2 separate regions of the Homo sapiens genome follow, and region 1 is linked to region 2. The links come from fine-mapping of genetic effects on gene expression. A gene starts in region 2. The other region holds a variant in brackets. All regions are shown on one strand. Distances are from middle to middle.

What was found. PIP is the estimated chance that this variant, and not a neighbour inherited with it, causes the effect.
Region 1: its variant is fine-mapped to the expression of PROX1-AS1 in pancreas (GTEx, PIP 0.99).

The regions. Positions count from the first base shown.
Region 1 is chr1:213,649,894-213,661,055 of GRCh38, forward strand. It overlaps a transcript of RPS6KC1 not described here. Among named protein-coding and RNA genes, the nearest start is that of LINC00538, 270 kb to the right of the region's middle. The variant G/A (reference allele first, on the strand shown) is at 5,564.
Region 2 is chr1:213,979,409-213,990,570 of GRCh38, forward strand. PROX1-AS1 (PROX1 antisense RNA 1) reads right to left here and starts at 6,745. Exons shown (of 6, transcript NR_037850.2): 1 at 6,661-6,745. It overlaps PROX1 (prospero homeobox 1), which reads left to right and starts at 8,565. Exons shown (of 5, transcript NM_001270616.2): 1 at 8,565-9,075. RefSeq lists enhancers at 4,045-4,731, 4,732-5,417, 8,942-9,445, 9,446-9,949.

The DNA of each region.
Region 1 (11,162 bases), 330 kb before region 2:
GTAACAGACATTTGATCCCGAGCAATATCTTCTAGACCTCTCGGCATTCATGGACACTTTATCGGTGCTATCTCATTCTTCCTCACAGCAACTGAGAGTAGGTATTATGACCCCTGTTTTACACATGAGGAAACTGAGGCTCAAAGAGAAGAAGTGAGTTTGGCCTTGTCATACGGCTGATTGCAGTGGATGCAGGAGCCCAGCCCAGGTTTGGTCCCTTTCTATACATCCAGGCGCTCCCTATGTTGCCCAACCAGAGGGTGCTTACTGACTGTCACCTCCATTAATTGTCACCCTTTAGAAACAGGTTTAAGATGCTGAGTTAGAAGCAAAAGCATTAAGTAATGCATTCACACCTCAATAGACTCATACACACTTATGTGTTATCAATGATGATTGGGGCCCTGAATTTGTGCAACAAATATCACCTGTCCAGTGGCTTTATTTCTAATTTAGTAACTACCATGCCTTTAACTAAATAGTCAGCCTTAGTGAGATATTAGCCTTCAGCAAAAGTATCAGCAGTGATCCCCTGCAAAGCCTTTTAACATTGCTCATGGAGGCACAAGCTCCCTCCCTCATTTTTCCTGACACACTCAGGGAAAGAAATCTCTAAGTTTACACCATCTGCTAGCCTCTCACCTTTCAGCATTTGCATCTATGTCCGCATCCGGGCCCCCTCTGCCAAGAGTTTTTCTTTTACCAGCTACAGATGAACGGAAACCTGGGGAGTGGGGAACTGTTTGGAATTGGGATCTGTCCCTTCAAGGAAACTTGGACAAGTCTCCCTTGCCTCCTGAGCCCATCAGCTCATCTCCCTCTCCCCACCCCATTCCATTTTTGTTTAGTTTGACCTTGGTCACTGATGACAAGGCTTCTTTTCCTGCCAAACCAATCAATAAGCTAAACAGACAGAAGATGAGTATTTAGAATATGGGAAGCCAAACTCAAACACAGATAGGTTATCAGCCTAGCCCAGAGCAGACTTCTGAGCAAATATTTCATTAACAAATTTTTCATGGCAACTTGCATGTTAAAAAAAAAAAAAAAAAAGAGGGGAGAGGGGGAGAGAGAGAGAAAACGTGTTGGGGGTGGGGTGGAGGTGGGGAGAAAGGGAGAGGCTGGCTGAAGCCCAGAAGCTGAATCGCCCTCCTAGGGAGTGTTGTTTGGAAGTGTGAGGCAGAGTGTAGGGAGAAAAGTGGGATGCAGAGAGAAGACCCCCAGAATGGGGAGCCCTATTTACTTAAGACCTTTCAACTTCAAACCTACCTCTTATTGCAAGGCTGGCCATGTGATTCATCTTCGACCATCTCCACAGGGGTGGGGCAGGCTACATCTCCCCAATAAAAACGCCAGACAGGCAGTCAGCAACTGGCAGGTGGAGCCTGGGCTGGGCACCTGGTGGGGGAGATTGGGAGGAGAGAGGAGATGTGGTCCCTAGAAAGCCCCATGGAGAAGCTGGAGAGCCACGGTGAATACAAACATAAACAATGATAACAAAGACAACTGTGTATCGGCCCCCACTGTTTTAGGCAGCCTTGAAGGCACTTCAAATATATTTCATCATTTAATCCTCACAACCAGGCCCAAGACTCTGTGGTCAACACTGGTGCACGATGCCCATGGGTCTATTCTGATGGCTCAATATTTTGAATATCATGCCCTGTTCACAACAACCCTAAAAGAAAGGCACTTTGATTTTAATTTATAGATGAGGCACTTGAGATTCAGAGAGGTTGAGACACTTATTCACATTTGGACAGCTGGTAAACTGAAGAGGCAGAACGAGGGCCTACCCAGCCTGACTCCAAAGGCAAGGAGTTTTCTGTTCCTTTCTATTGCTTCCCTAATAGCTTTCATTATACTTCCAAGAAAAGGTTGGAAAAACATGGAATTAGTAAGGTTCAACTCTTGTAAGCAAGTGCTGAGAGCAGGAAAGAAGGAAGAGACTGAGTTTTGAGCTCCTTGTGTGCCGAGCTCCTTCCCACGTGGCCTGAGCTCCTGCCTTCATTTGGATTCATGAGGGTACCATTCAGGCCTCAGTTCACAGTCACTTCTCAGAGATGCTTCCTGACTCACCCTGTACTATTTGTTCTTATTGCTTTCTATTTTGCCTTCAGCATACTTATGCTAATTAATTGCTTTTAATTTGTGCTATTTGTGTAAATTAGCACATATACTAATTAATAGTAATTTTATAATGTTAATTTATAAGTATCAAATACTAATTAATATCTTTTTGTGTAATTTATTGATGAATGTCTTTTCGATAGACTGGATTAATAATAATAATGATATTAACAATAATACTAATAGCTAGCCTCTATTCAGTGCATTCTACGTGCCTGGCACTGTGTTAAGGGCTTTACATATGTTAACTTTAATCCTTTCAGTGGTCCTGTGAGGTGGTGACCATTAGTGTCCCCATTTTACAGATAAAGTAACTGAGGCACACGGAAGTAAAGGAACTTGCCTGTTGTTTCTTAGCTAATGAGTGAGTGACAGAGCAGGATGTGAACCCAGGTGGTCTGTGGTCCCAGCATCCACATTGTTAACTGTGATATCGGGCAGACTGCAAAACATGGCCACAAATTCATATAAATACACCTTAGAGGTGGAGTCTGCTTTCTCACCTCTTGAATCTGGGATGCTCATGGGATTTGTTTTGACAAGCAAAATGCAACAAAAATGATGTTACATGAATTCCAAGGCTAGGCCTTAGGCTTTGCGGCTTCTGGTTCCCTGCTTTCGGAATGCTGTCCTGAGACCACCCTGTGAAGAAGCTGGTCTGGCCTTTGCCTGCATGTGAGGCCACATGGAGGAGAACTGAGGTACCCCAGCCAGGAGCCTGTCTGTACCAGATGTGCGAGTGCAGCCATCCCAGACCCTGCAGCCCAACCCACCCTGCACCTGAATGCAAGCACATGACTGGGCCAGGCAAAATCAGCAGGGAGACCAGCCAGCCAACCCTCAGAGTCATGAAAATTTAATAAATCATCATTTTCTGAGCCATGAAGTTTTGAGAAGGTTTGTCATGTAGCAAAGGCTAACTCAGCAAGAACTGTCTTATTCATACTGTATCCCTAGCGCCTAGCAAGATGTCTGGTACATAGCACTTTGACAGTAAAAATGTATTGGCTGAATGAATAAACAGAAGTGAGATTGAACCAGGGAGACCCCCTGGAAGATGCTGGCTAACTTTACAATATATCATAGAATACAGTCCATGTGACACATTCTGGAATTCTGGAATAGAAGATAATTTAAGAACACTAGCATTCTAGTCTGGGTGCAGTGGCTTATGCCTGCAATCCCACCACTTTGGGAGGTCGAGACGGGCAGATAGCTTGAGCCATGAGTTTGAGACCAGCCTGGGCAACATGGCAAGACCCCATCTCTATTGAAAGTACAAAAAGTTAGCCAGATGTGGTGGCACGCATCTGTAGTCCCAGCTACTCAAGAGGCTGAGGTGAGAAGATCACTTGCTCTTGGGAGGTAGAGGCTGCAGTGAGCCGTGATCATGCCACTGCACTCCACCCTGGGGTGACAGAGAAAGATCCTGTCTCAAAAAAAAAAAATTACTAGCATTCTTAATTTTCTGTAGTTTCTTTCAAGTTTGTATCAGCTTAATTTCAGAGTATGTTATAAAGTCATTTGTTGACATTTAAATTTTTCTTTATGTTCTTTCTTAGGCTCTTTAACCTATCATTTGTAATTTATCTTGACATAATTTCATATTTGTTTGTGTAATTAATTGATCATATCTATCTCTCCCCTAGATTGTAAACTCTGAAAGGACAGGGACCCTGTCTGATTTTGCTTATGGTTGTAACGCTTGTTCTGGCTCATAGCAGAATGGACTGAATTTAAAATGTGGGTTTCTTTATTTTAATTTCTAGTTTCCTTAGGTTGGTATTAAACTCTAATCTGCATTTTCACATTTTCCTGCTTCAATTTTGAATCAGAGAATGGTAAAGGTGATAGGGCCTTAGAACATCTCTTTTCCAGGGAAGTAAAGTTCAAAGGATAGCATACCTCCCATTGTCACACAGCTAGTTTATAGCAGGGTCAGGACTTGAGGTCATGTCTTCACTGGCACTGATTTTACATTCTTTCAAAGTGTATAGACCCTACAGCCCCCATTGTACAGATGGGCAAACTGTGCTAGAACCAACGCCAGATGGCAGATTACTTATCTCTCAGCTGAAGGCTGTCTTCATGTGCCCAAGCTGACTCCAGGGTTAAGCTTCTGACAGCTCCAAGTATTTTTTTTCTCTTTTATGTTGCTCTCAAATATATTTCTATCCCTGTCAGACCATCCCCCTTGTTCCCATTTAACCTGAGAAAGTTAAACCCACTTTTGATCATTATGTGAAAATCTGAAGCAAAGTGCTTCCTTCAAGGCAGATGTTTGGAAATGCTGAGCTGCAGGCGTTCAACTTGTCAAGTAACTTTTCAAATGATAAAAAAAGGGGAAATGTAGGTCAGAAAGCAATAAACTATATTCATATCCAATATATCCTTCTGGTTAAGGAGGCGACTTTGAATCTCCACCTTTCACTAAAATGAAACAAAAATCCAAATCCAACCTAAAGCATTACAGCTTTAAGTACTGAAAGTATTTATTGTTTCTATTCAAGTAATCCAAAAGCATAATCTCAAGAACATCCATGCTCCAGGAATGTCTCAAAACACCATGGATTTGATGTGATTCCTTTATCCAGATGTTTGTAAAAATGATTCAGAATGGCATGAGGGGAATTAAAGATTTATTTTTAATATCTGAAAAAGTCATATTTCTAATAACAGTGAGCCTTAAAAATGTGGCCCCAGTTTTTGCTGCCTGTCTGATTTTTCTCATTATCATTTCTTAAATAACAGCTCTGCTCCAAATGATCAGCCTATAAGTTTCCAAACATAAATATTTAGGTATTGGAAAGACAAAGCGGGTGAGGTACTTTCATTGTAACATTGATGTTCACGTCGACTTCATTTCAAGAGATGTTTTTCACCCAATGAGTAAACTATAGGCAAATCTCACAAAAGATCGCTTCTTGAGGGGCAAAATCTCTAACTAACTGCCCAAGTGTCCCAGTCTTGGAGAGTAGTGTGATTTGCCTTTCAAGATCATGGTATGTTTTATGTATTTTTTCTTTTTCTTTATTTTGAGAAAAAGTCTCATTCTGTCACCCAGGCTGGAATGCAGTTGCATGATCTCGGCTCACTGCAGCCTCCCCCTCCCAGGCTCAAGTGATTTTCGTGCCTCAGCCTCTCGAGTAGCTGGGATTACAGGCATGTGCCACTTTGCTCAGTTAATTTTTGTATTTTTAGTAGAGACAGGGTTTTGCCACATTGGCCAGGCTGGTCTCGAACTCCTGGCCTCAAGTGAGCCACCTGTTTCGGCCTCCCAATGTACTGGGATTACAGGCATGAGCCACCATTCCCAGCCTATGGTATATTTCTATCTGTCCCTTAAATGTAGGTAAGTAACACCAAACATTCCACAGTTAATGTATTCATTACCTTGTGTTCGGACATCCAACATAAGATACCTGTGAGTCAT[G/A]AACATCTTATTATTTGAAGGCCTCTCCTTCATCCATTATCCCCTCACTTGTGGAAAAGGATATTCTAAAACACGCTAGATTTTGTAAGTTGACCAAGTTTACCTGATGGAGAAGATACATTTCAGATTCTACTGGCAGAGAGAAATTCAAAATTAGGTCATCTCATGGTTACAAGTTGTATCTATAACAGAAACTAAAAGGTCTCAGAGATCATACACATTTTTCTGGTGGAGAACCCTCACTTTAAAGGGACCTGCTGTGAAACATTCTTTACACTCAAAATAAAAATATATATATACTGAATATTTCTATGGAAACGGAAGTTTTGATATAAAATAATATACAGTAGCTGGGTTAAATCTAAGATCTGTGCTCCCCCCAGGATGAATATTTGTGATTTTAGAGGATGACCCCCTGTGTATTGTGATGTTAAGGAAACTCAGAAGTCCTCCCTAAGCCTCTAAATCTTTCAGTTTGCTGTTTCTTGAAATTGATTTGTCAGAATTCAGTCTCTATTTTAAGATTTGGAGACTTCTAAGATACAAATACTTCGTTTTTTTCTTTGGCTAGCATTTATATGGTGGTGACTTCCTGCCAGGCATTACTGTAATGCTTTATGAGTATTAATTAATCCTCCCAGAAAGTTTCTGACTTGGGTACCAATGTTGTCCCCATTTGCAGATGAGGAACATGGGCACAGAGAGGCCATGTAACACAAAGCAGGTCACAGAATCATATGTGCAGCCAGGCTGGATGCCTTCCCCACTACACTGCACTGCCAATCTCAGCCTGTGGCAGCACCAGGCGAATAATTTTAGGAAACTTCCCCCAGCCTAGCACAAGGCTCGGGAGGGACAAGGGGCTAGCAGATTACAAAACGTGACAGCACTGGGCAGGAATAAAGTGGATGGGTAGAAAGAGGTGCCTAAAACAGGATGAAAAGAACAAAAGAGAAGGTGTGAATAATGAAGACAAAATTTGCTTATTTCTTAATTACAACAGCAGTGGAGACAGAACTGTCACAATGGTCACCCTTGGAATCACAGGTAGGACCCTTAATGATAGAATCCAATCCCTCATTTTTACCGAAGAGTCAAACAGAGACTGACAGAGCAGACTGAAGACAAGGGAAAGGACGTTTCTGAGATTTCACAGCTGATCAGTAGGCAAGCCAGGACTGGGCTCCATTACCCTGATTCTGGGTCCAGGGTCCATTCCTCTGAAAGCATTCTTATGCACTCCACTTCACTGAGGGGCTGGAAGAAGCTCAGCAAAAAGGAATCTTTTTTCTCTTTGTGCTTTGCCTTGTAAATGTTTGCTGCCTGGATGGTATTTGGTTAGACAATGACACAGTGTAAGAGAATGTTCTTCCTACTATTCACAACGATCATTTCCTTATAGATGTATTTTCTGGGAAGAGAGCAGTACCTTATTCTCTACCTTACATTACTTTTTTGGGAGCAGATAATGCAGCAGAGGCTAGAAGCAGAATTCACTGTCACTATCCCATATCAAAAAGATACTATGCATTTCTGAAGAGCATCAGAGGGGCCAGGTGAAACCGTGTGGGCTGAAGAGAGGGAAGAAATGATGAACATAGTTGGAAATGAAAAGTATTCAACTATAAATTAACATAAACCCAGGGGTCATCTTGCATGCACTCCTAGCAATAAGAGACTCCACAATGTGGATGAACAAGTGAAAAAAAAGTAATCAAAGGTAAGAAAGAGACATATGTGAGGCATTAAGCATCGAGTACAGAGGCAGCCAGGGAAGATTACTGAACAAAGTCCAGGGAGTGTAAAAAAAGATAAGGAAGGCAAAGGTAGTGAATGAAAAAGAGATTGCACTGAAGGTTAAGATAAATAATGGGGAAAATTTCAAGTGTGTAAGGAACATAGGGGTCATTGAAGGCGATAGTTGGATGATGAAGAATTGGAGGGTAATTTAAAAAGAGGTAGATGTAGCTAAAAAAAATAATGTAATTATTTAATTATTTAAAAAAATATTTTTTTGCCTTGGAATTCTCAGAAGATGGGGGACAAATGTTAGAAGCAGACATGCATTTCCTAAAAGAAACCAAAGAAACTAAAGAAATAACGAATAACACGATTACATCACCACAAGAGATTCAGAAATTAAGACTTGGGAAATAAAGCATTAGAGAATTCAATTCCAGGCAGAACGTATACAAACACATGTGAATAATGAATAACAGGAACTTAAGAAATAAGAATTTGAAAAACCAAACTTTTGGGGGAAAAACAGTTTCATGATAAGTGGTTGGTGCTATTTTTTGCTGCTCTTACAACACTAGAGTCATCTTCTTAATTTCTCTCCCTCTTTTGCTTCTCAGTTTCCTTTCACAGATATTTATTGAAAGCCTGCTAATTCTAGGCATTATGCTATATTTTAGGAGGTACATGGATGAATAACATATTTTCTATGGCCCTGCCTTGGCAAGTTTGCATTTTGGTAGAGTGGACATACTGTATCATGAATGGTTGCATGACTCAGCCACATACTGAGGTACTGTGAGGGCTGAGGGGTGCAGGAAATAGAGGCTCCGGAGGTCATTTTGGATTGGGACAATCAAATTCCACCTGTAGGGAGGAAATGAATGACATAATGCTTGTGCGCACTGTAAAGAACAATCCTTCCAGAGTGCTTGGTTTTCTTGTGTTTTGTGTAATGTTTAAAGAGTCAGATATGAGTGGTGTGGGTTACATAGAGGGAGATTGTCTAGGAACCTGTATCATCACATTATGTGGGATAACTTCTGCAAATGCTTGGGGGACCCACTTGTAGATGAGCCTGGGGAACTAGTTGTGTTACTGATCCTGAGATCCGGAGAGGGGGTGACATTTGGCCCACAGGGAAAGAGGTGAAGCGGCTAAGTCAAGCACTTTTGCCCTCCTCCAAAGATTAAGGGAAGCCCTGCAGGGGTTGAAGAGCGAGCACTGAGGGGGCAGAAGGAGGATCAAAGGTGGCCAGTAAGGACAATAAAACTCCAAGTGCTTGCTGAAGAGAGGCAGGTAATTTGATTATCCAACTCAGTGTAGTGACAAATAAGGTAATGAGGCTAGGGACAAGAAATCTAGAGGCAAGACAGATCTTCCTTGGTCATGGGCAATAGATTTGAGAGGATAAATCCAAGTGCACAGGCGGATAAAATGTTAATGTCTTTGGCACCAGGTTCTGGAGCAATAAAATAAATCAAACGTTATTCTGGATTGCATAAATAGAGGGACTGTGAACAAGTCCAAGGTAATTAGCTCAGAGTTATAAAAGGAAATGGTGAGTAGTGTTTGACCAAGGAAACTGGGGGAAATGCCTGCTGAGGCTTTCTCATCCCCTACTTTGCTCTCTCCATTGCTTTTGTTCACTGAATTTAACCTTGACTGGGGTTCTCTGCATCTCCAGCCCTCCGCACCTGAAGACAAACATGTATTACATGTGTTAGTAAGACTAGATCACTCTGCTGATATTCTTTTTTCTTTTCTTTTCTTTTTTTTCTTTTTTTTTGAGATGGAGTCTCCCTCTGTCACCCAGGCTGGAGCTCAGTGACAGGATCTCAGCTCACCGCAACCTCCGCCTCCTGGGTTCAAGCGATTCTCCTGTCACAGCCTCTCAAGTAGCTGGGATTACAGGTGCCTGCCATGACACCTGGCTAGTTTTTGTACTTTTAGCAGAGACAGAGTTTCTCCATGTTGGCCAGGCTGGTCTCGAACTCCTGACCTCAAGGGATCCACCCGACTTGGCCTCCCAAAGTGCTGGGATTACAGGTGTGAGCCACCACACCTGGCCTCAGCTGATATTCTTATAGGGAGGAAGGGCTGGAGTGAGAAGCTTGGATCACTGAAACCCTGTTCCATCCTTTCTTATTCTGATACGCTGTCCTAGGAGCCAGGTACTTCATGCCATCCAAGAATCCTTCCTTTAGAACATTTTCCAATGCTATAAAATTTAGATTCAAGAAACCAATGATTGATTTCTTCTTTTCAGACTGTCCTCTATTAGTACCAGTTACCAAAGAACATTTTCTTAGAAAGAAAATGGTCATCATCACGTACAACTAAGTTATTATTTATTAGTTACCAAAAGGAAAGTTGCTACAACATTTAAATTCAAATCAAAACTAATGACTTCCTTCATTAAAGAATTTCTCTTGTATTCAGGGTTTTTTTTTTTTTAACTGCTTACTGGCATAAATGTTCAAGTTTCGATTTCTTACAATGAAACTCTCTTAACATTTATTCCTCAAACAATAATTATGTGTAAATAGACCAGAGGTGCATATGTGCCTGTAAGTGCATACTGTTCCCAACAGCAGTCAAAAATAAATATCTTTGGATCAATCAGGTTTTAAAAAAAGAAAATGATAGGGAAAAGGGAAGTCGTTTATCTAACCTTAGCCAAGCTATCATCTACATTCCTTGTTTACACCTGATAATACATCCATAATTAAGCATTGAACTTATTCCTTTAAGGTCAGGTTGCAAAGGAGTCAGGGCATCAGGAAAAATTTCACATGGGAAATTCACTTTATACCTAGAGCCGGGTGTGTGTCTTGGCTGAGAGAACAAGCTGTCTCAGGTGTGGTGGCCCCTAGGTATTCTGTTGGAGATCCGAGGTTACTGGTTTAATATTAGCTTTGGGCATATTAGCTTGGCTACAGGAGCCCCTAAAGCTACCCTCTCTCTAGGAGGCAAGTTTATTTTGTAATAAATGTGTGAGGGACATGTTTAGATAATTCTTTTAGTTGGAGTGACAGGGAGGAGGAACGGGAAGGGACTGAAATTTTAATGTAGGCCAGTATCTCTAGGGAATGTAAAAAATGTCCAAGTTTCATGTCCAGAAGCTGTAGGGGATTTTAATGCCAGTGAGCTCATTTTAGACTCTACCCTCCTCATTGGAAGGCCTCTGGGCACATGTCTGGAATGTAGAAGGAAAGGCAGTGATATGCTTCACCCATGGGCGGAGCCCTAAGATCTCCATTTAGAAAAACAAGCCCCAATTAGAAAAACCAAAATCAGTCGTTGCTCATGCGCCTAATTTATTTATTTTGTACCTACTGTGTGCCAAACTAACTGCAAACATTGTGGAAGATTCTAGGTAGCTCATTTTAAAGAGCCTAGCAACACAGATGCATATATAAAAGTAATTCAAATACACCCAAAGCTATAATATTAGTGGGAGAATGGAATGACAGACTCATGCCTACAAATTATGGTTCATTTATCCCTTTCTTTACTCTTCATTCTATTGCACACCAATCTTACAACAAAACTGTGCCCAAAAATGGCAGAGTAGTTTTGCAGAAAAAGCACCATTCTCCCCCATGTATGCAGTAGGGCGATGAAATAATGCAACTGGTTTTATCTGAGCAATGGAACAAATCCTTCCCATTGATTATGATTGTGTCATGCACAAATTCGCCAGTCGTTGAGTCCTGCAGCTAGATTTCAGAGATCATTTTGCCTGTAGAGACAAGCCCAGGTAGTGAGGCTGTGTGCTATATTTTGAATCTTGAGAGCAGAAGTTTCCACAGCCTTCCCGAGTTGTCTATTTCAGCCTAGAACAATTGTCATCTCAAGA
Region 2 (11,162 bases):
CGGAAAGATCACTTTGGAATAGGAGAGAAGAAGGTGTTGACACTTTTGCCCCTCGTCCAGATCCTTCTAGACTAGAGTTTCTAATTGAGGTTTCCGAGATCTGCCTAAATCAAACACCGATCATAACTGCCCATATTGGGTCAGAACCAAAATCCTTCGGTCCACTCTGCTCCCTCAAAGGGTCACCAACTGTCGTGCTTAGCAGTGTCTTGCAAACAGTAATTATCCGATGAATTGAATTATTCTGTTTTCTTTGAGTCCACTTTGGGTTAAGCACCCCCTCCCGCTCTCCCCAGCACCGCCATCAGAAGATTAGCAATGGAGAGAGAAGGGGATGAACTCGCCTGATGGTGGTGGGAAAAGGACGGTGGGGCAGGGAACAGGGACCCAGAGGAGTGAAAGGAGCAGCAGGGCCTAGGGAGGGGACGGAGGAAGATGGAGCTGGGAGGAAGTAGGAAGCTAGCGTGAGGGGCGCTGTCGAGGCGCTGAAGGGGGGCACACACCGAGGCGCAGCCCGCACCCCCAGTAGGCTGAGAGGGCGCCGGGGACCCGCACTGAGAGTCAAGGCAGCCCCGCTTCCCTACCCATAGCGCCCCCCGGGAGATAGTCCGGGACGCAGGGCCCCCGAGGCTGCGGGTCCAAGTCTTTCAGCCAACCCGGGATTAGCGAGCCAGCCGCTTCAAAAGTCTAGGCGAGAGGAAGCCGAGACGCGTCGGCCTTCGCCGGGCTGGAGCCCCTGCCAGATTTAGCCTCCCGCCTGGCCTTTTCTCCGGCCTGCCCCTCCGCCCTTCAAACGACGCTTCCACACGCCCCCTCCCCGCCTGTTTCCCGGGCCTCCTCCGGGGAAACTGGCGCTCTTCGCCCACCCAACTCCCCTCCACCCACCTCCCCCGCGCCCCCAGTTCGAAGTTCCCCCGACAGAGCCCACCCACACTCGCTCCCCCAACTCCACTCCCTTGCCCCTCCCACACACACACAGCTACACACTACCCCTGTCCCGCCCATTCACACTCTGCAGACACACTTCCCCCAGCCCTCCCCATCCCGTTCTCCCCCAACTCACCCACCAACACCCTTTGCCTCTCGGCCTTTGCCCCCTGTCCACCTACAAGTGTAGGGAATAGAGCTCTTTCCACTAGGAGGGTGCTTGGGGAGGAGAAGCCAGAAGTTGCCATCCATTTTTGTACAGTTTGACCCCAAATATGTTTCTCTCTAGTTTTTGGGGGGCGCCCTTTGTTTTTGTCCCCTAAAGTTACGGACTTTTTCCACCTAGGAAACAGGGACAGAGAAAGTAGCCAGAGAGCAGGAACCTTCCACGCTTGCCCAAAGACCACGGACACCAGGAGGACAGGCATCTAGGGGTGATGCTTCCTCTTTCCCTCATTCAGAGAGTGCAGTGCCTTCACCCCGACCCCTGGGGTCCATTCACTAGGGGCTGGGCCCACCGACACCCCACGCTGGCAATCCCTTCTTTACTCCCCCCGCCCCCGGGAATCTACGATTACTTTATCTCAAGCCTTTTGAGGGTACCAGCAAAACACCTTTCTCGGGATGTTTAATAAGCTGCTCACAGGCCTCTGCAGTTGAAAAACTGTCAGCCCTCTTGAGCTGTTGTCTGCTGCTTCAGCCCGTTCCATTTCCTTGGCTTTCTTCCCCCCACTTCTGCAGTCACAGCCGAGCATGGCACCTTCCTGCCCAGCTTCCTTTCCCTTCTCACAGCTGTCCTTGGCTGTCTGTCCCCTAATCACCTTGGGGTATGCTTCTATTCATTGGTTTGAACATAACTTTATGAAAGTTTATATTTTAATTTACATGGATTTGGGGGAGGTTATTGAGTCAAACATGTAAAAACATATAACATATGATCTACATTTGCTTTTGTTTTACCTAGGAATGTTGTCTTTTTTTTTTTTCTCTCCTTCTTGTTGTTCCCTTTTGAAGAGAACTCTTTGTCCTGTGGTTTCATTGGTCTGACCAGCGGTTTCTTTAGGAGATGCTTGCCATCTATAAAACAGGGAGGGTGAACGGGCCAAAAAAAGGTGGGGGTGGGGTGGAGGAGGAAGTAGACTTCAGATTGGTAAATTCCCCCCTTTGCCAGTAGGCCTGATGGACAGTTCTAGGTCCAAAAGCACAGGGCCTAGCTTCCAAATGTGCCAATTCTGATTTATTTTATGGCCTAAAAGACGGGGGAGGGGAAAGCATGTAAAGGTGACAACTATGCATGAGCTAAAATGTGCATACACATACATATCCCATGACAGTCCAGCTGGCTTCACCAAAACGTTGGGGATAGGGACAGGTCCTTATAAGAATACATGTCAGCTCGAGTGTACACAGCACTCATTTGTGGGCAACATACCTTCCAAGTATTGAGCACTAGTCATGTGCTGAACAAGTTTAGTCGTGTAGAAGTCTCTCAATAAATCTATGATTTGGATATTATCCCCACTTCACAGATAAAAAGAACTGAGTCTCAAACAGATTAAGTAACACACTGAAGGTCACAGAGTCAGTAACAAACCAGCTGAGCAGTAATTAAAGACACAGGGTGACCCCCAGATTCCCAGGTCCTTCTTCTGATTACCTCACTGGGGTGGGCCCAGAAATCTTTATTTAAAACAACAACAACAACAACAACAACAACAACAAAACACCCCTTCGGTGATTCCGATGATTCGTCAGGTCTTCGGAAGCACCACTCCACATCAAACCATCCCGCTATTCCTGTCACCAGCCTTGCCTCCAAGCAGCCTACTCCACGTTGGACAAAACATTTAAAACATATTTAAATAGCAATTTCGAAAAACTATACAGCATATGGATTTTCCTTTTGATCTCAAAATGATGACAAACAGACACTTAGATACTTCATAAAAGAAATATTACCAGAAAAAATATAGAAATCTGGCTTTCAACTTCATCTTGCTCTAATTTAAACAAAATGCAACTTTCCAGTTACTCTCTCCAAATGCATCCAAACTGGGAGCGTCCTTCTCTTTTCGCTGCGTCAGGCAGGCACCTACTTATTTCTAGCCCACTCCTCACCCTGAATAAAAGCTTCTGGTAAGATGGACAATATGGAAAACTTCAGTCCTATCACCAAAGCCCCTGAAAATGGAGCACCCCCGAATTCACATCCTTGACGTGAAAGACCAAAGAGAGGGAAGCTGGGAGTAACGGCCAAACATCCTTAGAGTAATTGACAAAAGAAAGGGGGTGGGCAGAAAGGGAGATTTCCATCCCTTCAAACGTGCACGCCCCTCCCGCGGTCCCGGGAGGGAGTCCCCCCTCCCAGGTCGAGCGCGTCCACCGGCTGTCCCCACAGCAACAGGCGGGCGGCGGGGGAGGAGAGGCCGCGGGGGCAGCGCAGGCCTGGCGGCGGCCGAAATCCCCCGGCCACCACGACGTTCCCCGGCTCTGCGGCGCGCCGGGAGCAGGTGGTTGCCCTCTGCGTCCAGGGCGTGTACTGAGCCCAGGCTAGCTGAGCGAGGCTGCAGCCCCTGCGATGGCCCGGGAAGAGGCAAGTGCCGCGGGGCCAGAGCGAGGAGGGACCAGCAGGGCGGCCTGGACCCCCACTTGGCCGCGCAGGCAGGAGGGGCGCGCCCTCTGCGGAGCGCGGCGCCGCGGCAGCCGCAGCATCTGGCGCTCGCTCTCTCTGGCCGGAGAGGCCGCGACACCTAGCGCGGGGCCGAGGCTAGGAAGGGCGGGCCGGGGAGGGAGGAGGGCACTGGGAGGAAGCCGCGGGCGAGGAAGCCCCGCTCCTGCCGAGTGCCTGGAGAGGAGATTCCCAGCCTTCCTGCCCAACCCGAAACTTTTCCAACACACGCAGGCGTATTCCTCGCAGGATTCGGCGGTCCCGAGTCGCAGTCAGGGAGGAGGCTCGGGAAGCACACGTGCCCTGGCACACTGGAGGAGGTACACAGGCACACCAGGAGGGACAGGGCCTCTTGGGAGGCGGCTGAGGGCGTGAAGGCAGCAGGCGGCCACACATCCGAAAGGGACTCCCTGCGAGCGGGATCGAGCGCTTAAAACCCTGCCACAGCTTGGAAGTGTAGCGGTGCCCAGAGGCTTTGCGTAACTTTGCCCACTGCGCCCCCGCGTGCAAAGGTGTCCCCTTCACACTCACACCCTCACCCCATCTCACTCCCCTTGAGTTGCGGCCCGAGACTGCCTTTGTACTTAAGCGACAGCAAAAGATATGTGGATTTGAACCAAAGATGGTGGGCAAGAGTGTTGTAAATTGTGTAAATTCCACTCGCGGGAACCCCCAGATACGTAGGGAGAGCACCCCTTTCTCGCCGAAGGCATCCCCTCCGTTTCTCTCAGCCTTTGGGTTTCCAGCTTCTTCGCTACTATGGACTGAAGAAGACAAAGCACAGCCAAATCAATGTTTTGGGTGTTTTTGTTTTTGTTTGGTTTTTTTAAATCACGGCCTCTCCAAATGCTAACCCTCAAAACGATGGGTGGGGTTGGAGAAAGGCAAGTTATGTCAGGGAGCACCCCTCGGAAGGCGCGCGCGCGGCCTGGCCGGTTCCTCGCCGGGCTCTGGGCAGCCGGGCGGAGTGGCTAGATTATGTAAGTAGCAGCCCTCCATGTGCTCACCACCATCTGTTAATATCTTGGTATTGGAAAGTTCGGTGCCTGAGGCAAAGCCAGGGTTGGCGGCGAAGAGCTCCCAGCCTACACTTCACTACTCCAGGGCAGGGAATGTACTTCCCTTTGATTGTTTTCGCCCACTTCCATAAAATCAAGTAGTAGTGTGTCCCTTCAATCACTGACAACCTCCTCATCCCCGCGGGTGTGTCTTTGTGGGCGAAGAGTGATTTTCTTCGAGGTCAACTTATTGTAATTAGCCCTTTCGATGAAATTATATTTTCATGACAATTCTGCGCTCCTTAAAGCAATGTGGCAGACTCTTATTTGGGAGTGGGTTCTTTATCATTTTAAAAATTACTTTCTTTCTGCCAGCACCCCTGGATCCAAATTCTTGTAAGGGTTATATTTCAACTTCTTTGGAGTGATTGGCTTCTGTTTACTTTGAAAGCTGTTGGTTAAACAAACATCACTCAGGAGGCTTCTAAGCAGTGGGGTTCCCAGGAGAGAAAACGCTGCAGCTGCTACTTGCTACTGATCTTGTGGCATTTCACTTCCCCCCCATTCAGAACAAATCCAGGTTGGGCTTGGCGTCACACTGAGCACAGGAGATGAGAGTGAGAGGCCGTCAGTCAGTTTTGCCTCTAGAAAGCTTGCAGCAGGCAGGCCTGCACCCTGGGGTTGGTTTTCCTCTCTTCCCTTCTTCAGGGTGCTGATAGTGATGGTGGTAGTGGTGGCGGTGGTGGTGGTGGTAGCGGTGGGTGGCTGACCTGGAAGTCCTTAGGCACCCTTTTCCAAAATCCACGTCCACTTTTGCCTCTCAACTGAATCTGGTTGTAATTCTCAGAATTGGTTTGTTTAGGATCTGATAACAGTTGTTTGTAAGGTTTTAAATTACTTATACACACTGTCTTCCCTCCTGCCCCCACCTAACAGCTTTAAGAAAGAACAGGAGGCGTGAGCATACACCGAGCAAATGTCAAGGCGAAGTGTATTTAACCCAGAACCAGATGCATGGGTGATAACTGCGAGTTTGTCTAAGAACACACAGATCACCCTTCAGATAAATAAGTAAATGCAACCTGCACGGATAGAGTGTGTTACAAGACCGGTCAGAACTTGCGTTAACTTCTAAGTTACTGGGGTTGTGTTGGAAGTGGGGCGGAGGGAGGAGTTGTCTTAACCCTAGGCTTGGCGGCTGGTTTCAGAGATGGAGCCAATATCTAGGCGACTCCTTGTCTCCAGGCTTCTCCCCTATCAGAAAACAAAGCGGGAGTCGCCCGAGATAGGGGGCTCGGGCCTCAAGTCTTGTCCAGGGCAGCCCGAGACCCAGGAGAATGCCGCAGCTCTAGCAAGAGAGGTTGCCAGGAGCCTGGCCTGTACGCCTCCCCGACAGTAGAGGACAGGACACGGGACAGGGCTGCGCCGAGGCAGCTCACGGAGCTGGGCTGCGAACCGATCTCGCTCGCCTAGCGTGGCGCGCGCTCCTATTTCAAGTCGCCGCTCCTGCGCCCTAATGCGGGCTGCGAACCGCCGCGGCAGAGCGTCGCGAGCCGGGAGCCTCTGCCGCCGAGGCTGGGGGTGGGAGAGCTTCCTTGTTCGGCAAGCGGGTTACCCCGACTTCGACTCAGGCCTGCTTTTGCCCACGGCGTGACACAGGACTTACTGGGGTTCTCAGGGAACTTTTCCCGCCGCCAGTTCCCGGGCGTGGTGTGTGCAAAACGTGCATTCAAGCGCTATGTGCAATTGACACAAACTTGTGGGCTAAAGTGCAAGCCATTTTTTTCGCGTTTGAATCTTTTTCTCTGTCCCTGACTCCTTTCTTCCCCCTACTCCCCCCTCCTCCTTCTCTGCTCTCCGCCCTTTTAAATGTCAAACTGAGCAGATGGTTTTAAGGTGTGGAAAGGTATATAGCCCTTACTCCTACCAGTTTATTTGTGGGCTGGCGCTAACTTATATGTACAAACCAAGATTCTTAAAGAAAACTAGTAGGACGAAAAATAAGAAAGAAAGTAGCTTTGATCCATTCTCAGATCCCAAGTTTCCCCGCTCAATACACCCGCTTACCTCGAAGGGACCCAACCAATAGAAGCATTATTCCGTCCTGTATCTAATGGGCATGTTGATTATTTCTGCTCCCAGCCTCAACTGTCACATCCCGGTTAGAACACCTGATACAACAGTCAATAGTTGGAGGTGTGAGTGGTGCGTGTGCGCTCCTCTGTGTTGCTTCCGTGATAGACGCGTGGGGGGAGTGTGTGGGGGCGGCAAAAGGGGAAAGAAGAAGGCTGGGGATGCTCCCGCAATCTCTTTTCTTATCGCCGACACCTAACCTGACCGACCTAATTTTTTTTCTCCTTTTCACTGTTTGAAATTCGTGCCAAAAGTTTCCTGCCGGGATAGACTCGGACATACTAACATCGCTATTCTTATTCAAAGGGAGGGCTTAATATCCTCTTTACGGTTTGGTGAATTTGAGGCTGAAATTGTAAATTCCCTAGGAAGGAGTGTGTGTGTGTGTGTGTCGCAGAAGACATTGGTAGTGTTTGGCCAGTGTACTTGTAACACACCTCATAAATACCCTGTTGTCACGACACAGCATGATTCAACCTTTGATCTGATTAAATTTGAGGGACACACGAAGACTACTTGTCCTCCTCCTACTTACAAAAATGAGTGTCTAATAGACTATGTATGAATGTTTCTGCTTCGCAGCTCTTGCAAGTCCCAGCTTTTATAGGATCTTTAGGTCATAAACGCGGCTGCTTTATTAAAAGCCGTTTACTGTGCCCGGTGAAAGGGACGTTCTAGCTGCGGCTGAGGCTCGCTTGCATTTGTAACTTGCAAAGCCCAAGGAGATCTTTAAGAGCCACATTATCTAAAGAAATTTTGCTGGTTATTTTTCAAGCAAGAAATGTCAAACCAAAGTAAATTTTCTAGGGCTTTATTTTAGAGCCTGCGATTTATGCGTTTGAAATTTCTTGCCTAATAAACTTTAAAGTTTGTTGCCCAGGCGTCAAAACTGTGTAAATCCTGTATTGAACAGCTATCTTTGGTCTTTCTGGGGCGAGTGAATTAGTGAAGGGTAATCGCCAGATGTTTGCAACATATATATTTTTAAAGGCTGCTTTACCTACAATCCAACTAATGTCAGAGGTAACCAAGGGTAAATATTCCTCTTCCTGATAATTTGGACTGGAGATAAACTGGGACTCAGCCAATGTTGATCTTCGTCTAATAACAGATGCAGCGGACCCGATGTGAAACCTCTGGCACCTATTATTTTAATACCAAACCTACCTGTATTTTATTGTCCACCTCCCCTTTAAAAGGAACCAAGGGTGACACGTATCCTTGACACTACCTATGATCGTTTAAAAAGTGGAATGATTTGCAGATCCCCCCCTCCCTCCTCCTATGCCACCCCCACCCCTAAAACCCCCACTTTTTCTCCCGTATACTTTTCCGTGCCTTCCTCCACCCAAGTCGGAGGAGCGCTCACTCGCTCGGCCACTCGGCGAACTCGATCAGCTGTATCTGGGAAATGAAAAAAGAAAAAGAAAAAAAAAAAAAAAGACCTGCGTCCTGGAAGAGCTAGTGTGAGCCGGGCGCCGCTCGCGCCGTCTCCCGCTTTGCATAGTGCCCGCAGATGGCTCGCTCCGGCCCAGGCGCGGCGATCCAGTCGTCCCGAAGCTGTGGCAGGGTGGGGGTGGGGGTGGGGGCCGGGGATGGAGGCCGGGGAGGGGGAGCGCAGGGCCCCTCTCCCCTCCTCTCTTCCCAGCCCCTCACCCCCACCCCTTTTATATTTTTTTTTCCTCCCAAGTTCTCTTGCCTTGCTATCCCCCCTTGAATCCGAAGGCGCCTCGCGATTGGGTGCTGGGGCCGGGTACGTCAGATAGACTGTGACGTGCAGTCTTCCTGTTTCCTTCAGCTGTGTCTTAAAGTAAATCTTGTTGTGGAGCGGAGCCCTCAGCTGAGGGAGCGCTCTGAAATAATACACCATTGCAGCCGGGGAAAGCAGAGCGGCGCAAAAGAGCTCTCGCCGGGTCCGCCTGCTCCCTCTCCGCTTCGCTCCTCTTCTCTTCTTTACCCTTCTCCTCTCTCCTCCTCTGCTGCTCTCTCCTCTCCTCCCGCTCTTCTCTCTCCTCCTCTCCTGCTCTCTCCTCTTCCCTTAGCTCCTCTTCTTTTCTTCTCCTCTTCTTCCCTCTCCTCGCCTCTCCCCTGCTCCTCTTCTCTCGTCTCCCCTCCCCTCCCGCCTCTCTCTCCCCTCTCCCTCTCCCACTCGCCCCGCTCGCTCGCTCGCTGTCGCACAGACTCACCGTCCCTTGTCCAATTATCATATTCATCACCCGCAAGATATCACCGTGTGTGCACTCGCGTGTTTTCCTCTCTCTGCCGGGGGAAAAAAAAGAGAGAGAGAGAGATAGAGAGAGAGAGAGAGAGAGAGAGAGAGAGGCTCGGTCCCACTGCTCCCTGCACCGCGTAAGTATCTTCTTCTTCCCCTCGTGAGTCCCTCCCCTTTTCCAGAATCACTTGCACTGTCTTGTTCTTGAATGAGAAAGGAAGAAAAGAGCCTCCCATTACTCAGACCCGTGTAAACATTATTCCCCCCAGGAGAAAATGGTGTTATTCAAATGAATCATAATAAAATAGCCTCTAAACAGTTTCTAAGCGGGAGCCTCCGTGGAACTCAGCGCTCCGCTCCTCCCAGTTCCTAAGAGTAAGTGATCCTCTTGGCTTTTATTTCTTTCTCTTTCCTGCTGGTGGCTGGGGGTGGCGGTGGCGATGGGGGGGAGGCTGATGTTGCTGGACTTGTCGCTGATCTTGTCACCTTTTGTGTACTGTTTCTGGGGTGTGAGGAGGCGTTTGCTCCCTTTCCTTCTTTCTCCTGCTCTCTCTTCTCAGGAGAGAGGACCGCGAGAGGGACCGGGTCGCTTTTTTGTTCGTGGAGATCCCCGCTTTCCGCCAAACCCCATCCTTCCGATCTCCCCAGGCTAAAACTCCGGGGCCGGTCCCCTTGTCCTTTCTCTTTGTCTTGTTTATTATAGCTGCCTTTCTTCCCGGCTCTTCCAATTTGCTTGTCATTTGCATACCTTTCACTTCTCCTTTTTTAACCCCAGCAGAGGACCGGGAACTGGGAGGAGGAGAGAGGGAGGTGGGGGGGCGCTCTGTTACTTTCGTCTCAAAACGCTGTCGAAGCCGAATTGTGGAAATCCGGCTTGGAGGGGAGCGGTGATGGGTCCCGGGAAACGCGCGCGGCGCCCCTCTTCCGAGCTCCTGGACCCAGGGCTGGGTCAAGTTGAGTAGGGTAAGGCGGCACCGGGAGGCTCGGGGGGTCGCGTGGCGGTGGGATTGGGACACCAGCACGAGGAGGACCGGAGGATCGCGGGCCGGGTAAGAGTAGGGGGTTCTTGGGCAGCAGAAATGGGAGGCGATGAATCTCCCAGCCATCGCTGGCAGACTATGGTGTTGGGCAGCTTCGGTCTGGTCTCGTCTGGGTGGTACCTACCGTTTTGCCCCAGTTAGGAGGACTGGGGAGGGAGGACAGGAGAGGTGAGAGTAATTGTTACTGGGAAGACTAGTGAGGAGGGCGGGAAGAGGGAGGGAAGAGCTGCTATCTTGCCTGAGCAGATCAGGAGGGGGACGCAGTGGGCGGGGGGAGACATCACCCAAAGTCCAGTTTAGCAAGTTGTTGATTCTTCTGGTGTGCCAGCCCGTTACTCCCCCTGCTGAAGCTGAAGGTTGGTGGAGTGATGGAGCGTGGGGATGGTAAAGGAGGAGTAAGTAGCTTTCCACAGACTCCCAGGTCTCTGGCCCCTTCCCAGCTTCTTGGGAAATTGAGAGCCCTCCAGGCAGACAGAGAACAGAACTAGAAGGAGGGGTGGTGCTTAGTCTTAAATAGCTCAAGGAGGCAGGTTGGAGTGTGAAACTGCTGTTCTTGGCAACCCAGAAGGCTACTCTGCCTGGGGGAAGGCTGGAAACTCACCTGCTTGTTTTTATTTTTCCGAGAAGATCTGTGCTGTCTCCTTGAGCTTATAAAAACAGAGGAAGCACAGGGTGGCCTCCTCGCAAAGTCAAGGCTAGAAGACTCCCTTCTCCTGTTCTCTTTTCCACTCATGCCCTCCCTTATTTAAAAAAAAAAAAAAAAAGAAAGAAAAGAAAAAAAAAAGAACTCATTTCCTTTCCTAACCTAGGTAGGCAGAAATCTATTAGCAGAGTGCGCATGGGCAGGGCCTGACAGGTGTGTTGTGTCAAGAAAGACAGGTGCAAATTTCCTCTGTGTCTGTGTGTGTCTGTACAGCTCTAGACCACAATGCTTGCTCGAGGGTTGGAGAGGTTTATGAATTTATGGTTGTCCTGGTTAATAGGATTGTCTGGGCTAATGGGAATTGGGCTGTTGTTCTTTTGAGCCCTGCCATGTGAGTTCTTGGGGTGGGGGGTGGGGGCAAGTTGGTATGTGTTTGTTTATTTTTCTTAAGGATATTGGCAGTCTACTGCTGAGGCTGTGTCCCAGGCTTCTGTCTGCCAGTCAGCCCAAAGCACCCCCACTTTAGGCAGCAGGTGGAGGG